2 separate regions of the Homo sapiens genome follow, and region 2 is reported to be linked to region 1. The links are microRNA targets in miRTarBase. Many come from high-throughput screens and were not tested one by one. Region 1 holds a microRNA gene; the other region holds the end of a gene's coding sequence.

Region 1 (5,376 bases):
GTCTATGAAAAAGCAGTGAAGAAATATAGATACGGCACACTCTGGAAAACACCTACTTGGGATAGGTTGTTTTATCTGAGTTTTATATTCTGATTTCCTGAAAGTCGGGGGGGTCTGGAGTGAGCAGGCAAGATGTCCAAGATGCAGAATCTCAGGAAGCACCCATGGTCTAGCTCAGACGAGAGCAGGATCAGCACGGAGGGTGCCTCTCTCCTCTCGCCCTGGCCCCATCCTGGCAACAGCATAACATCCACCCATTCAAAACCATGAGTGGACTTGAATACACTTCACACTGACACTAACTGCACTGCTGAGTGTTGGGCAGTAGTCCAGGAAGCGTTGTAAGAGACTGAGGAAGGGAGCCAGTAAAGGTTATCCATCAGGTTACTGCTGCTGGCACATGCGGACCTCTGTGAGCTGGTGTAGAACACATCTCAGGGTTATCCCACCCAGGGGGCCAGAGAGCCGGGTGTTTATCCACTAACCCCCGTCCGTCACTGGTTGATGCTCCTTGGGAATGTTAACTCCTTGGCACTCAGCCAGCCCACATGCAGCCTGAAGACCCCTGCTCTGGCAGGGGTCTGGACTGGGAGTTTGGGTGGCCATGGAGATGAAGAAATGCACTTAATATGGCAAAATATTGGAACTTTCTGGACATTCTGATGATTCACAGGGGACACAAAGAACAGATTTTTACTATCATAGTGCCCTTACACCCCCTGCTTTGCAGGAACTCCTTATGGAATGGAAGCACATCCAGGCTGAAGGCCCCTGTGTTCCAGATGCTGTGTGAGTGTTGACCTGCCAGGCGACTCCACGATGGCTTCCGTCCTCAGGTTCACCATCAACTAAGACAGACTGAAGATGTAAGTAGTAATGGAAGGACACAAAAGGTACAAGAGTCAGAGGCCAGGCCAAGAGTGCAAGCTGAGCAATGGGCAAGGAAGGCCTCCTTGATGGCTAGCTCCAGAACTGGGACTGCAGAAAGAGGAATTTTCTCGATAGAAAGGGGTGTGGGCCTTCCAGTCAGGTTCAGATCCACAGAAGCATGCACATGTGGTATGCTGGGGCACCACTGCACCACCGGGGAGGGTCATGCTGGAAAAGAGGCTGCAGGATCTGGGACTCACTCTATCCTGGGGCAATGGGGAGTTTAGGAGAGGGTGAGTCAGATCAGCATGAAGTTAGCCTAGAGTCAGGAAGATGAGTTAAGAGGTCTGACAGTCTATTGAAGTAAAATTATTCATTACAGAATAGCACCATGTATGTTTCTAAAATACTTGGTGCCATATTTATTCTCCTGAGGGATTCATCTGAGCACTTAGAAAAGAATAACTGGGCCATTGAGTCTTGGTTGAAATCATTCATTCATCCAACCAGTATTCATCAAGCATCTCCCACATGGCCAACGCTGGGAACCCAGTGTTGAAGTTGGAGGAGACTTCACTCACATGCCATGAGAAGTGCAAGGAAGAGGACCAGCTACCTGTAGAGCATGTTACAGAGGAGTCAGGTCTGGTCTGAGGTTGGAGGTCCAGGAAGTGACTGGAGTTGAAGCTTGAAGGAGTTGGTATTCAACATGCAGAACTGGGAAAAAGGCATTCCAGGCAGAGGAAGCAGCTTGTGTGAGGGCACTGGGGTGAGAGGGAGCATGGTTCATTTGAGAAGTTAAGAAAGCACAGAGAGGAGGAGAATAGGGAGGGTTAGGGGAAGAGGGGGTAGGGCCTGTGCCAGGCCTGGCCCTGCCCTTTAAGGTGCCAAGTCCTTGCAAGCATTGGAAGTTAAAACATGATGGCCATTTATTGATGATTTATTGATCTCTCTGTATCCCCTTGGGCACTAGCGGATTCTCGACAGAACCACAAAGTGGAGTTGGCTGCAGATGAGTCTGTTCATGGCCCCAGTTTCTCACCTATTCCTGAGTCACCTTTTGCCCCTCAGACACAGAGATGGGATAGCGCCAGGATGTGGGTTTGTGTTGTCTAATTTCTTGGAGTTTGTACAGGTTTTACCTGGTACCAGCGTGACCTTCCCATGTACCCTCTTGGTCAGCAACTTTTTACAAGGAGTTAATCCCACTTTCTGGAACTTGCTCATTCTCAAAGTGAGTGGTTATTGGTCCTCAAGACAGTCCGCAGAAATTTCAGCCCCATGGGAAAGAAAAAATTCCAGGTCTCTACCTGATGCTTGGAAAGCCAGCCATGTTAACTTAGTCAACACCAATGCTCATCAAATACACACATTTATCTAGTGTTCCCAACCTACATTCCCAGCCTGGGATTCTGTGGGCCAGAGGCCCCAGTGTAGAGATTATAGCCTAATGTCCCAGCAGAGAATCACTGATTGCAGATAGGAAAAATCCAGACATTTCTGAACTCCAAGACCACAGTGATTTATGTGGCCTGGTGATAAGCTATGATTGATATATTACTCAAAGTTTCTGCTTCCCCCAACTCTGGCAAGAACTTTGGCAGAACTTCTATGCCATATCCAGTACTAGGAAGTTGCCAAGTTTATGTCCTTAAAATAAAGTGGGTTCCAAGATAGATGGCAGAAAGTGGGAAATGTGATTTTTCTTGATTGGGTAACTAAGAACCACACAGCATGCGGGAGCCATTTTGGGCCAAAGAGCTGTTCATTTAAAGTGTTTATTGACACCTGGAAATAGGGTTTAAACTTCAAATGCTATTTTCACATCAAGTTTATGCTATATAATTTCATAATGGTGATAAAATCCAGGCAGCTACCAAAAGGAGAGCTCCCAAGTGATCTTACTACTGGGTTTCCGTAGTACAGACATTCAGGATCCTGGACCCGCTGAAGCCAGGGGAGGAAGCACCCTGGCGGGTCACTGGCTGATGGAAGGACAGGCGCCGTGATGGTTAAGTGTGTCCATGTTGGCTACCTGATTTCTTTTCAGCCAGTCTCAGCTTTGGTTGGTTTGTTTGACTGCCTCAAATCCTCGGTGGTCACCCTTATTTTTTATCTGGAATGTGTTCCCCACTCTGTAGAGGACTGAGCAGGGAGATTGCTGTGCATCCTTGAAGGGTTCCATTTTGACCCTGATCATCCTCAGTAGACATGGAAGCTACTCCAAGCGTGGCCTTGGAGGTTTGGGGACCCTGGACAGCATACAAATGGAGGGGTGAGGGGCAGCCGAGGGAAAGAAATTACTCAGAATATGCAGTAAGAACCATGTCTGGTTTCTGGTTTCTGTGTTTGGCAACACAGTAATGGGATTCCTTGCATTTCTCCCAGAAAAGCATTGGTGGGGAAAAAACTTTGTTCTGGGAGGTATGGTGATCATCAAATGCTATGAAGGCCCACACTGGACATACTTAAGCTGTGGAGGGCTGTGTTTCCCTTTGAGCATTTATTGAAGGCAGATCCTCTTCCCAGAGAAATACCAACACACAGGTAAGTTTGTGTTCAGGACCCGGGACTCCTTGGAGCCATGGATACCCACCCATGACCCCTATGGGATGGGGAAGTTCACAAAAGGCACAACGAAAAAAAGTCTTTCAGGTGGGGCTGGGGAAGGCAGTGAAATGTTAGCATATGCTTGCTTCCCGGTTCTCACTTCTGGCTGTTCTCTGTCCTCTCTCCACCTCCGGCAGCAGCAGCACAAAGGCATCTCTACGCCCATCGGCCTGCCCCAGAGACCTCCCTGGCATGGTGTGGTGGGGCAGCTGGTGTTGTGAATCAGGCCGTTGCCAATCAGAGAACGGCTACTTCACAACACCAGGGCCACACCACACTACAGGCAGCATTCCAGCTCCAGAACCCGCAAGGGCGCCCTCTGGCGAGGCAGCTACACCCGTCACAGAGGACCCTCGGCTCCAGAACCCAGGCACGCGGCTTTCCAGTTCTGGGCTGGCTGCTGCAGCTCCCCTGCAGACACTGGCCTCCTGAGGCTGCTGTTTATCCCCCAACACAAATGCTCCACTTTTAAAGAAAAAGACACTCCTGGTAACATTAGCTTCCTACAGAGAAAATGGTGCTACCAGGTTTCCCACTGTGAAAATGAAGTTATGGGCCATCAGGAGGGTTAAGCGCCACTCAACTGAACATTTCCTCCTAGGTGCCAAAACACACAATGGTTGCGGAGTTGGGACCTTTGTTTTGATACTTGGTGATGGTAGCTTTGAATAGGGCAAAGTAGAGGGAAGGGAGGACCTAGTAATAGGACGGTGGCCTCCTGGAGAGAGGAAGGCTCTTTGTAGCCACACATGCAGGTAATGCATCCACTTCCTAGATGGTCCCAGGGTCCCTGGAAAGCAAACACCTTTCTTGGCCAGGGAGAGTTCCACAGCTCTCCATCAGTGCATGTCCCAGTGACCTGAGGGCTGGACGAGAACCAAGCATGGGATTGTTCCTAGGGCACTGATCTGCCAGACACTCCATCAAAGGTAATACTTGCCATCACCTGTGCTGACAGATGGGCTTCCTTTCCCCAGGTCCTTACAGCCATGGACCCAGCAGAGCTGGAAAACTAATGGAGGTCTCTAGAGTTGGAGTAGTATTTTGTGCCTAACTTAAATCTTATATGTGACATCACCATTTTTCAGAGCCCAAGCAAGAGTTTTCAAGATAGAGTGGCTGGGTTGGCTGGTGTCCTTTCCATAACGCTAATAAAAAGGAGGATATTCCTCTCTCTAGTTTTCTACAGGACAAAGATCCAGAGCCACTCTGATTAACTCAGGCCCAGTCTATAGTCTGTTTGTATAGGGTTCTTGCTGCTCTGAAAACCAGAGAGACGGATAAAAACAAGCACCATGCAAACCTTGCATAGCACCCAGGTTACATAGAGCCTGAGTTAACCAGAGCCACCTGCATCTGTATCACCTTAGAATTATGGAGGGTGAGTCTACTTCTGTAAAGTTCTATCCCTCACTCCATCCCTATATCGTTAAGGGCATCTCTGAAATTTGTACTAAATTATGTTTAGGGACAAATATCTTCAAAGCAAAATAGTCCCAGTTTTCAGAAAGGGCTTCTTGCTGTCTCCTAAGAATTCATCCAGTTACCAACTCCCCTACGACCAACGGAGTCCAAGCTAGAGCCACTCATGGTGTGGTCCATGGGTGGCAGCTTCAGCATGTTGGAAAAGCAGGATCCCAGGGACCACCATGCACCTGCTCCATCAGAATCTCCAGTGGCCAACTCGGGGAACATAGCCAGACCTAATCTCTATAAAGAATGTTTTTAAAAATTAGACAGGGGTGTGGTGGCACACACCTGTAGTCTCATCATCTCCTCAGGCAGCTGAGGTGGGAGGACGTTTTGAGCCCAGGAGTTTGAGGCTGCAGTGAGCAGAGATTGTGCCACTATACTCCACCTTGGGTAACAGCAAGACCCTGTTTTAAAAAAAAAAAT
Region 2 (5,376 bases), not on the chromosome of region 1:
TTTCTTTAAAAAAAAGATCCAAGATGGGCATTATATTCATTGTATGTTTACAAATTCTTACATTTTAGTTATTCTTCAGCAAAAAATCCAGATGGATGTTTTTTTCAGAAAGTGTTGAATGGGTTTACAAAGTTTTTTTGTAAGGAACAATATTGCAAATTACTAAAATTGTATTTTTATAGGCTGTTTGCTCTTTTGTGGATATTGTGCCTGTCAGGATTCTTGAAGGTAAGTTATGTTATAATGGTTAATTTGAAATATAATTCTGGCTGTGTCAATATAAATAACCTCAAAAAGCTATAAGAGATACTCTTATGATAGGACACTTAGTTATAATTATCCAGAACATTTGTATATAGAATGATTATAGAATTATCCCTTTAGAAAATCAGGGTCTTGTGTTGGTCCTTATTATTGACTGAAAAAAAGATGAATGAATAAATGAATTAAATTACATAGAAAGAGGCCCTTGCTTACAACTGCCAAGCTCCAGTGGCACATTTAATTGTGAAAAACGAAATATATTTTTAAATAATTTATATGTGGAATGCTGTTTTTCAAAGTGGGTAATTTAGTTTAATGGAATATAACCACTCATTCATCCTTCCATCCAACAGAGGCAAGTTTGGACTTGCCTTGCCTTTTTCTGCTTTTAACATTTGTATTCAAAGTTGTACACCATTGTCAAATGTATAATGTAGCAGTAAATCATTAGAGGAAGTAAGTTAAGTCCTGTTAATACTGTTCTCAAATATAAACATATTTCTTTAATCTCTTCCCTATAGTTTTTTTTTTATAGTGAGATAATGGAGTTGGTCTTAGCCGCTGCAGGAGCCCTTCTTTTCTGTGGATTCATCATCTATGACACACACTCACTGATGCATAAACTGTCACCTGAAGAGTACGTATTAGCTGCCATCAGCCTCTACTTGGATATCATCAATCTATTCCTGCACCTGTTACGGTTTCTGGAAGCAGTTAATAAAAAGTAATTAAAAGTATCTCAGCTCAACTGAAGAACAACAAAAAAAATTTAATGAGAAAAAAGGATTAAAGTAATTGGAAGCAGTATATAGAAACTGTTTCATTAAGTAATAAAGTTTGAAACAATGATTAAATACTGTTACAATCTTTATTTGTATCATATGTAATTTTGAGAGCTTTAAAATCTTACTATTCTTTATGATACCTCATTTCTAAATCCTTGATTTAGGATCTCAGTTAAGAGCTATCAAAATTCTATTAAAAATGCTTTTCTGGCTGGGCACAGTGGCTCACGCCTGTAATCCCACCACTTTGGGAGACCGAGGCAGGTGGATCACGAGGTCAAGAGGTTGAGACCATCCTGGCCAACATGGTGAAACCCCGTCTCTACTAAAAATACAAAAATTAGCTGGATGTGGTGGCACACACCTGTAGTCCCAGCTAGTCAAGAGGCTGAGGCCAGAGAATCGCTTGAACCTGGGAGGTGGAGGTTGCATTGAGCCAAGATCACGCCACTGCATTCCAGCCTGGTGACAGAGCGAGACTCAGTCTCAAAAAAAAAAAAAAAATTTTTCTTCCTAAATTAGCCACGCATAGCAGTTCGTTTGCAATTCAAAAATAATTTTATGAGTAGATAAGAATATCAGTTTACCGTTGTCTAGTGATTTTATCTAAATTTTCCCTGAATTATTAAGTAATATTGATTTGGCTTTGATTCTGAAGTAGTAGAGTCTTTACCATTATAAACTGTAAATCTCTTTTTGCTTAAAAGGAAAAAAATGTAAAAGATAAATTCCACAGAGAATTATTCAGTATTACATTAAAATGTTAATGACTTTTTATTTTAAATTGTACTAACATTAAAAGTTGGCCTGAAAGTCAGATATTATGACAAAATTTGACATTAATTGTTTTTAAAGTATAGATTTCATTTGAAATTATAGAATGGTAATGTGGTTAGAGGACACCAAAGATACTGGGTCATCAGCCATTAAGTATATCTATTTCAAAATTAAAATATTTGGGAAGTATTGTCTTATGGTTTCATTTGTGTTGGTCCACACAGCATGTTAGGTCAGTGTACCAGTAACCAATGAAATTTTGTCAAATTCCCTCACTGTACTAGTTTGTTAGGCTGCCATAACAAAGTTCTACAGCTTGGGTGGCTTCAACAAGAAATTTGTTTTCCCACAGTTCTGGAGGCTAAAAGTCCAAGATCAAGGTGTTAGCAGGGTTGGTTTCCTTTGAGGCCTTTCTCTTTGATTTGTAGATGGCCATCTTCTCCCTGTGTCTTTAAATGGCCTTCCCTCTGTACTTGTCTGTGCCCAAATTTCTTCTTCTTATGAGGACACCAGTCATACTGGATTAGGGCCCACACTGAGGACCTCATTTTTCCTTAATTATCTCTTTCAAAACCTATCTCCAAATACAGTCACATTCTGAAGTGCTGGGATTAGGATTTCTTCATGTGAATTTTGGGGGGACTACAACTCAGCCCATAACACCCCCTAAGTATTTCCCAGCTATTAAGTTGAAATAAACTTGTAGTATCAATTTAAGCTTGCATGATTTGTAGATGTAAATTTGACTTTATTATCATTAACTGTTGAATTATCAAGTGTATGATGCAGTGCAATCAAGTTTAACAGCATGGTGGGTAAGAGCATCTAGATTAGAATCATTGCAGTCCAACCAGGTGCTTAAGTGACATTTGGCGAATTATTTATCCTTCCTTAGGTCTTCTGCCTCATCTTCATAATGGGAATAATGATGTCTAGCTTATTGGGCTGTTATAAGGATTAAATGAGATAGATAAATAAACTAAACTAAGTGCTTAATTAATGTCAGCTGATGGTATTAATACCATTTTCTTTTTTTTTTTTTTTTTTTTTTTTTAATTTATTTTTTTATTGATAATTCTTGGTTGTTTCTCACAGAGGGGGATTTGGCAGGGTCATGGGACAATAGTGGAGGGAAGGTCAGCAGATAAACAAGTGAACAAAGGTCTCTGGTTTTCCTAGGCAGAGGACCCTGCAGCCTTCCGCAGTGTTTGTGTCCCTGATTACTTGAGATTAGGGATTGGTGATGACTCTTAACGAGCATGCTGCCTTCAAGCATCTGTTTAACAAAGCACATCTTGCACCGCCCTTAATCCATTTAACCCTGAGTGGACACAGCACATGTTTCAGAGAGCACAGGGTTGGGGGTAAGGTCACAGATCAACAGGATCCCAAGGCAGAAGAATTTTTCTTAGTGCAGAACAAAATGAAAAGTCTCCCATGTCTACTTCTTTCTACACAGACACAGCAACCATCCGATTTCTCAATCTTTTCCCCACCTTTCCCCCTTTTCTATTCCACAAAACCGCCATTGTCATCATGGCCCGTTCTCAATGAGCTGTTGGGCACACCTCCCAGACGGGGTGGTGGCTGGGCAGAGGGGCTCCTCACTTCCCAGTAGGGGCGGCCGGGCAGAGGCGCCCCTCACCTCCCGGACGGGGCAGCTGGCCGGGCGGGGGGGCTGACCCCCCCCCACCTCCCTCCCAGACGGGGCAGCTGGCCGGGCAGAGGGGCTCCTCACTTCCCAGTAGGGGCGGCCGGGCAGAGGTGCCCCTCACCTCCCGGACGGGGCAGCTGGCCGGGCAGGGGGCTGACCCCCCCACCTCCCTCCCAGACTGGGCGGCTGGCCGGGCAAAGGGGCTCCTCACTTCCCAGTAGGGGCGGCCGGGCAGAGGCGCCCCTCACCTCCCAGACGGGGCAGCTGGCCGGGCGGAGGGCTGACCCCCCCACCTCCCTCCTGGACAGGGCGGCTGGCTGGGCAGGGGGCTGACCCCCCCACCTCCCTCCCGGACGGGGCGGCTGGCCGGGCAGAGGGGCTCCTCACTTCCCAGTAGGGGCGGCCGGGCAGAGGCGCCCCTCACCTCCCAGACGGGGCGGCTGGCCGGGCGGAGGGCTGACCCCCCCACCTCCCTCCCGGACAGGGCAGCTGGCCAGGCTGAGGGGCTCCTCACTTCCCAGTAGGGGTGGCCGGGCAGAGGCGCCCCTCACCTCCCGGACGGGGCGGCTGGCCGGGCGGGGGGCTGACCCCCGACCTCCCTCCCGGATGGGGCGGCTGGCCGGGCAGGGGCTGACCCCCCCACCTCCCTCCCGGACGGGGTGGCTGCCGGGCAGAGACGCTCCTCACTTCCCAGATGGGGTGGCTGCCGGGCGGAGAGGCTCCTCACTTCTCAGACGGGGCAGCTGCCGGGCGGAGGGGCTCCTCACTTCTCAGACGGGGTGGTTGCCAGGCAGAGGGTCTCCTCACTTCTCACACGGGGCGGCCGGGCAGAGACGCTCCTCACCTCCCAGACGGGGTCTCGGCCGGGCAGAGGCACTCCTCACATCCCAGATGGGGCGGCGGGGCAGAGGCGCTCCCCACATCTCAGACGATGGGCGGCCGGGCAGAGACGCTCCTCACTTCCTAGATGTGATGGCGGCTGGGAAGAGGCGCTCCTCACTTCCTAGATGGGATGGCGGCCGGGCGCAGACGCTCCTCACTTTCCAGACTGGGCAGCCAGGCAGAGAGGCTCCTCACATCCCAGACGATGGGCAGCCAGGCAGAGACGCTCCTCACTTCCCAGACGGGGTGGCGGCCGGGCAGAGGCTGCAATCTCGGCACCGTGGGAGGCCAAGGCAGGCGGCTGGGAGGTGTAGGCCGTAGCGAGCCGAGATCACGCCACTGCACTCCAGTCTGGGCACCATTGAGCACTGAGTGAACGAGACTCCGTCTGCAATCCTGGCACCTCGGGAGGCCAAGGCTGGCGGATCACTCGCGGTCAGGGGCTGGAGACCGGCCCGGCCAACACAGCGAAACCCCGTCTCCACCAAGACCAGTCAGGTGTGGCGGCGCGTGCCTGCAATCGCAGGCACTCGGCAGGCTGAGGCAGGAGAATCAGGCAGGGAGGTTGCAGTGAGCCGAGATGGCAGCAGTACAGTCCAGCTTCGGCTCCGCATGAGAGGGAGACCGTGGGGAGAGTGAGAGGGAGAGGGAGAGGGAGAGGGAGAGGGAGACGGAGAGGGAGAGGGAGAGGGAGAGGCCCCCTTACATTTTTGCACGCTATTAATACCATTTTCAGTTCAAAGGTGGAATGGACTGATTGTGACTAAAGATTCTGTATAAGCAAAAGTAGATCTGACATTTTTAAAATGTAAAACAATGCCATTCTTTTCACTAAATTATTTTTTATTTAGAAAATATAGTTATTTTCCATAAAAATGTTAACATGTAGTAAGTTTATCCTTTCTAAATGACTTAAATTTTCCAAAAAAAATTGTTTTAATTTCTGATAAGATCAATATAATAAGCGTGTAAAGGAATCCCAAGACCAAGAAGTTTGAAAACCTTTGGTACAAA

The links. The annotated mature microRNA hsa-miR-138-1-3p reads GCUACUUCACAACACCAGGGCC and lies in region 1 at 3,728-3,749, shown strand. An mRNA with a match to its seed (bases 2 to 7 or 8) in the 3' UTR can be bound and repressed. Matches are read on the target gene's strand: a 7mer-m8 pairs with bases 2 to 8, a 7mer-A1 pairs with bases 2 to 7 and ends in A, and an 8mer does both.
Region 2: miRTarBase lists TMBIM4 as a target of hsa-miR-138-1-3p. Seed matches in the 3' UTR shown: 7mer-m8 at 1,704-1,710.

The regions. Positions count from the first base shown.
Region 1 is chr3:44,110,547-44,115,922 of GRCh38, forward strand. MIR138-1 (microRNA 138-1) reads left to right here and starts at 3,666; the gene lies at 3,666-3,764. LOC124909489 (a long non-coding RNA gene) reads left to right here. Exons shown (of 5, transcript XR_007096256.1): 4 at 731-866; 5 at 3,618-5,376. RefSeq lists an enhancer at 3,711-4,210.
Region 2 is chr12:66,133,576-66,138,951 of GRCh38, reverse strand. TMBIM4 (transmembrane BAX inhibitor motif containing 4) reads left to right here. Exons shown (of 7, transcript NM_016056.4): 6 at 183-228; 7 at 786-3,106. The coding sequence ends at 992. It overlaps LLPH-DT (LLPH divergent transcript), which reads right to left. Exons shown (of 2, transcript NR_125724.1): 2 at 4,503-4,900. Among named protein-coding and RNA genes, the nearest start is that of LLPH-DT, 5.5 kb to the right of the region's middle.